Regions from separate parts of the Homo sapiens genome. Here region 2 is linked to region 1. Evidence: fine-mapped expression QTL. Tissue or cell type: whole blood. Region 1 holds a variant in brackets; the other region holds the start of a gene. All regions are shown on one strand. Distances are between the middles of the regions.

What was found. PIP is the estimated chance that this variant, and not a neighbour inherited with it, causes the effect.
Region 2: it holds the start of GAL3ST4, and the variant in region 1 is fine-mapped to the expression of GAL3ST4 in whole blood (INTERVAL, PIP above 0.99).

What each region holds. Positions count from the first base shown.
Region 1 is chr7:100,601,637-100,604,313 of GRCh38, reverse strand. It overlaps PCOLCE (procollagen C-endopeptidase enhancer), which reads right to left and starts at 1,951. Exons shown (of 9, transcript NM_002593.4): 1 at 1,763-1,951; 2 at 776-884; 3 at 97-355. The coding sequence starts at 1,857. It overlaps PCOLCE-AS1 (PCOLCE antisense RNA 1), which reads left to right and starts at 276. Exons shown (of 9, transcript NR_038910.1): 1 at 276-476; 2 at 1,148-1,974; 3 at 2,631-2,677. RefSeq lists a silencer at 1-42 and an enhancer at 50-842. The variant T/C (reference allele first, on the strand shown) is at 1,012.
Region 2 is chr7:100,167,135-100,169,811 of GRCh38, reverse strand. GAL3ST4 (galactose-3-O-sulfotransferase 4) reads left to right here and starts at 1,195. Exons shown (of 4, transcript NM_024637.5): 1 at 1,195-1,266; 2 at 2,529-2,677. GPC2 (glypican 2) reads left to right here. Exons shown (of 10, transcript NM_152742.3): 10 at 1-206.

The sequences.
Region 1 (2,677 bases):
GCGCGGGGTGGGCGGGGCGGAGGTTAGGGCTGGGGGCGGGGCTGCGGCCGGGGCGGGGCCTGGAGGGGGGGAAGGCGGAGGTGAGGGAGTTCTCACCAGTGCCCGAGGTGGCCCGCCCGCTGTACCAGAGCAGGAAGCCTCGTCCTCCTGTGCCCTCATCCGTCGTCATCCTCAGGGTCACCTGGTTGCCGGGGGCGACTAGGGGCGCAGGCCGGAAGGTCCCACAAAAGCGTCCGAGCCGCTGGCCGGAAGTCCCAGACCCAGCGAAGACCTCCAGAGCATCGTAGCGGCAGGCGGGGTGCAGCTCCAGGTCGAAGACTCGGAATGAGAGGGACACAGTCTGGCCCTCGGGGACCTGATAGCGGGGACAGAGGCGGGGACCCACAGAGTCAGGCCCCACACAACCCAGCCAGAGGGCAGCTCCCCTGCCCCAAGCGTTTCTTGCAGAAACGGACTGAATGGGAAGGGGCCTCCATGTGAGTGCAGAGCAGAGGGCCTGGTCTCTGCAGCTCTGCTGGTAGCCTGTGCAGGGGACAAGAGCTGAGGCTTTGGAAGAGGAGGGAGGGCCGGGGACTGGAGAATGAAGATTTGAGGGAAGGGTTAAGATGATGCGTGTTACGGTGGGAATGATGCCTTCAGTGACAGAGGGAAGACACTTGGAGCTGCCCCAGGTTGAGAAGGTGGTGCGGGGGGGACGGGGGGGGGGTCCCTTCGCAGTCAGGCCTTTTTGCCTCTGAGACTTTAACAAGGGGTAGTGCCCAGAGGGGTTTCTCACCGTTATGGTCCAGATGCACTCCTTATTAGGGGGGTAGAGGTTGGGGAACCCCTCACTTGCCACGTAACCTGATTCCCCCTTCACATCCCCTCCGCACAGGAACACGGGTCTGGAGAACAGAAAAGGGGTCAGGAAAGAGCAGGGACGGGTGGGACGGGGGAGCACTGGCAAGATGGGGATGAGGTGATGAGGATGAAACTCCAAGGAGGGAAGCTGGGGGATGAAATGGAAAGGCC[T/C]TGAGAGACCTGGGGCAGCTTCCACCAGCCAGGACAGGGCTGGGGTGTCCCAGACTCCCACAAAGATAAGGGAAAAGTGGGCCTGGCAACTCGACCATCCCTCCAACCCCAAGAGTCCCCACCCCCACCCCAACAGGAATTCCCGGAATCCTCCTCGGCCCCCCTTCCAGACTCCCGCCTCACTCTGCCTGGCAGTCCAGGGACAGGAGCCGCCTAACTACTTCCAGATGTGGACACAGCCACGAGGCGGTGGGGGGGAGGGGGTGGAGAGATGGAGGGAGCTGCAGTGGCGATGGCCCTCTGATTGAACCTGGAGGCCAGGCTCCGCGAGCTCCACACCTTAGCCCTGCCCCTGTTCCAAACTACTTCAGATTCTGACTCCCAAGTCTCCACTCACTGCCCCCTCCTCCCCCTACAATCCCTCTCGAATTCCTTCCTGGAATCCAGCTACCAGGCAAGTTCAGGAGCTTGGCTCTCTCTTGGGTTCTATGGGGGGTCAAGGATCTGGGTGGGTGGGGAGACTTAAGAGACCAGAGGACGAAGGTGGGGGAATGGGAGCAGTGGTGGCCTGCAGGAGACCAAGGTCTTGCAGCAGATGGGGAGGATTTGGGGGCCAGAGAAGGGTGAGGCGGTGGGGAATCTGGGGAGTGGTGTGTCAGCAAGGGAACCCAAAATATCTCCAGGCATAACCCCAAAGGAATCGGGGGTCTGAAGTTCACTGGAGCTGTCTGGAAGATGCCAAGAGACCTACCTGGTGTAGTTGGGGGTCTGGCCCTGGGCAAAAGGCAGCAGGGCGCAGGCAGTGAGGAGGGGCCCCAGGAGGGAGGCTGTGGCTGCAGGCAGCATGGCCCCGGGGGAAAGGCGCTGGGGTCCTCAAGACAGAGGCAGCAGCTGAATTTTGCAGAGCAGCAGCAGCGGTGGCGGCAGCAGCAGGATAATCAGCGCCAGATGGGGCAGCCTTGGGTGTGTGGGCGTGGGGACTGGCCAGTGGGGCGGGCAATGGGGAAGGCGGGACAGTGGCGTGTCCTGGGACCTCTCTAGGTCTAGGACACATAAATGTTGACCTTAGGAGGGGGAGGAGCAGTGAGGGGCAGAGGCCGTCTCCCAGGCCTCAAGTAACGTCATCGGGAACCCCACTCTGTCCAGTGAGGGAGTATCTCCGGGAACTTCTGAGGACTCCCTAGCCCCCATCCTCCCCCCGCCCCTGCTTCCTCAGCTCAGGAGCCCTCATTGCTCACCCCCTGCCTGACCACCCCTGCCAGCTCATTTTCCACTTCAATTTCTTTTTTTTTTTTTTTTTTTTTTTGAGACAGAGTCTCATTCTGTGACCCAGGCTGGAGTGCAGTGGCGCGATCTCTGCTCACTGCAACCTCCGCCTCCCGGGTTCAAGCAATTCTTGTGCCTTAGCCTCCCGAGTAGCTGGGACTGCAGGTGCATGCCTCCACACCTGGCTAATTTTTGTATTTTTAGTAGAGGCAGGGTTTCAGCATGCTGTCCAGGCTGGTCTCAAATTCCTAGCCTCAGGTGATCCGCCCACCTCGGACTCCCAAAGTGCTGGGATTATAGGCGTAGCCACCACACCTGGCCTCCACTTCACATCTCCATTGCCTTCTCTCCAGACCTGGGCCAGACTAGGCCAAGGAGAAGGAATTCTCACCCATGACCT
Region 2 (2,677 bases), 430 kb after region 1:
ACTGAGGGTGCTTGAGTAGGATGTGAGACTTCATGGGCCTGGGTTCTGTTGAGTTTTTTCAGTATCAATTTCTTAAACCAAATTTTAAAAAAAACAAGGTGGGGGGGTGCTCATCTCGTGACCTCTGCCACCCACATCCTTCACAAACTCCATGTTTCAGTGTTTGAGTCCATGTTTATTCTGCAAATAAATGGTAATGTATTGGACCCCATGTGTGGCTTCTGTGCTGTCACCATCAGTGCCTGAGCCCTGGCTCCTAGCAGAGGTCTCAGAGCCTCTGTGACTGGCTCATTTTCTGCCGGCTTTTCACTTCCCTTGGCACCTGTCCCCCAGGAGGCGGGCCTAGACAATAACCTCTGATCTCCAAATTGCCCACCCTCTGGGCCTCTGAGCATCTTCGTTTGTACAACAGGGAGAATTGTGGGGACCAAATAGAATCTGTGTGAAAAAGCACCTTGTCACCTGCAAAATGCTCTTTGAACATGAGGCTTTTTTTTTTTTTTTTTTGAGATAGAGTCTCGCTGTTGTCGCGAGGCTGGAGTGCAATGGCGCGATCTCAGTTCACTGCAACCTCCGCCTCCCCAGTTCAAATGATTCTCCTGCCTCAGCCTCCTGAGTAGCTGGGATTACAGGCGCCTGCCACCACAGTCAGCTAATTTTTGTATTTTTAGTAGAGACGGGGTTTCACCATGTTGGCCAGGCTGATCGCAAACTCCTGACCTCAAGCGATCCACCAGCCTTAGCCTCCCAAAGTGCTGGGATTACAGGCGTGAGCCACCGCACCCGGCCACGAAGCATTATTAAGGTGACCACACCACTGCCCCCTGCCTTCAGGATGGGAGGCCTTGTTCTCTGAGTGTCAGTCTCTGGCTACCTTGCCACGTCCTTGACAATGTCTGCTTTCAAATATCACTTTCTCCTTCCTTCCTTCTTTCTTTCCACCGCCTGAATGAATCTTTTGTTCTGCGGCAAGCCAAGAGAAAATGGTAGGATTGATTCCCAAGTGTGAAAGCGGGGGCGGAAGTGGTGTCTTCCAAGAGGAGTCTGGGTGCCCTGCCGAAGAGGGGAAGATGCAGCGAGGGAGAGACCTAGAACCGCGATCAAAGCTGCAGCAGCTGCTGGGGCTGGCGGCACAAAGGGAGGAGGGAGGAGCCTGGGCGCTGAGAAAGTTCTTGGGGAAAGTTGAGCTGAGCCAAGAGTCGGGCGGTGGCTGGGATGGGCGGGAGGGCCCGGCCCGATTTCCCTTGCTGCTCCCCTTGTGGCCTGGTGAGTGGGAAGTGAAACCAAGGATAGGACCAGTGGAGGGACCCTCTAATTTATGGGAGGAGACATGAGGGGTTCATGGAACCCCAGCGGGGGCAACTGGGCAGTCACCAAAGCTGGAGGGGACAGAGGGCTGGGATCTCCAATCATGGGAAGGGAGAGATGGATGGAAGGAAATGAAGAACTCTGGATAGGGGAGACGCGGCTAGACCCCAGGGGCTGTGATCAGGGAGGGAATTGGGGAGTGATGCCAGAGAGGGCAGGTCTCCGGGAGTAAAAGTGTGGCTTCTCTCTGCTTGGGGTTACCCCTGGCTCATCGGAGCAGGGAGCTGTCGGGGCTTGTTGGAGGGGCCGTGGTCCCTGATCGCGAGTTGTAATCTGAAGGGGCGGGGCTGGACTCCCGGTTGATTAGGAAGCTCGGGCTTCAGAAGGAACTCTGCAGTTAGTGTTTGCGCCTTTCTCCTTATCTTTGTGTCATAGTCTCTCTGTCCCTCTGTCTCTCTCTCTCTGTTTCTCTGTGTGTGTGTGTGTGTGTGTGTGTGTCTCTCTCTCTTTCTGTCTCCCTCTCCAGCCCCACCCTTTCAGTCTCCTCCGGGTGCACTGATAAGGTTGGAAAGTGGAATGGTGGGTAAGTCCAGGGATCTGGGCTTTATAAGTAGCCACACGTCTCCCCCAGCCCCTGTCATACATGGGGGTCTGCCCCGTGCTGAGACAGAGAAAAAAGAGGCGCGGGAATTTATAACCCAATGGCTCTTACCCATTGCAATGCCACTCCTGGAAGTCCAACCTCCCTTCCTCCTGCCTGGGTTCATACACCTGTGTCCTGTCTGATCCTCATTCCCACTGTATGGCTTCCCTTCCTGGTCCTGGGATAGGGCTCTTTATCCCCATCTGTGACAGCCAGAGGGGCTCTGGAGGAAACCAGGTTCCCGACCATGGTCTGACCTGACTGTGTTAATGAGCTGATTGATCTGATCTCTCTCTCTCTTGCTGGCTGTTTCATTCACGAGCTGGGGCTTTTTCTCTCCTTCCCTTATAAATCCCCAAGGCTCAGGGACAACTGTAGGTGGGGAGCGGGAGGAACTGGAGATAAGAAAGTGATAGAGCAGAGACAGTAGTTGTGGGGCCACCTAGGAGAGTCTGGGTATAGACAACATCCCCAGCCACTCCCCTTCCCTGAAGGAGGTCTCAGCTGCAGCAGGAGAGAAGGCTGCCTCTGCCTCTCTCCTTAGACTTCCCTTCTTCCCCCCTCATTTCCCTTCTAGACGCTGACAGAGGCAAAAATCTGCTAACTCAGGGGGCAGACTCAACCAAGACTGTGAGCAGGCCTGGGGAATGACCCCCCGATCTCCAACCAGTGCCTTCCGCAGCTGCACGGCTGTCTCCAGCTGTCTCTGCCCCTCTTCCTGGCCCT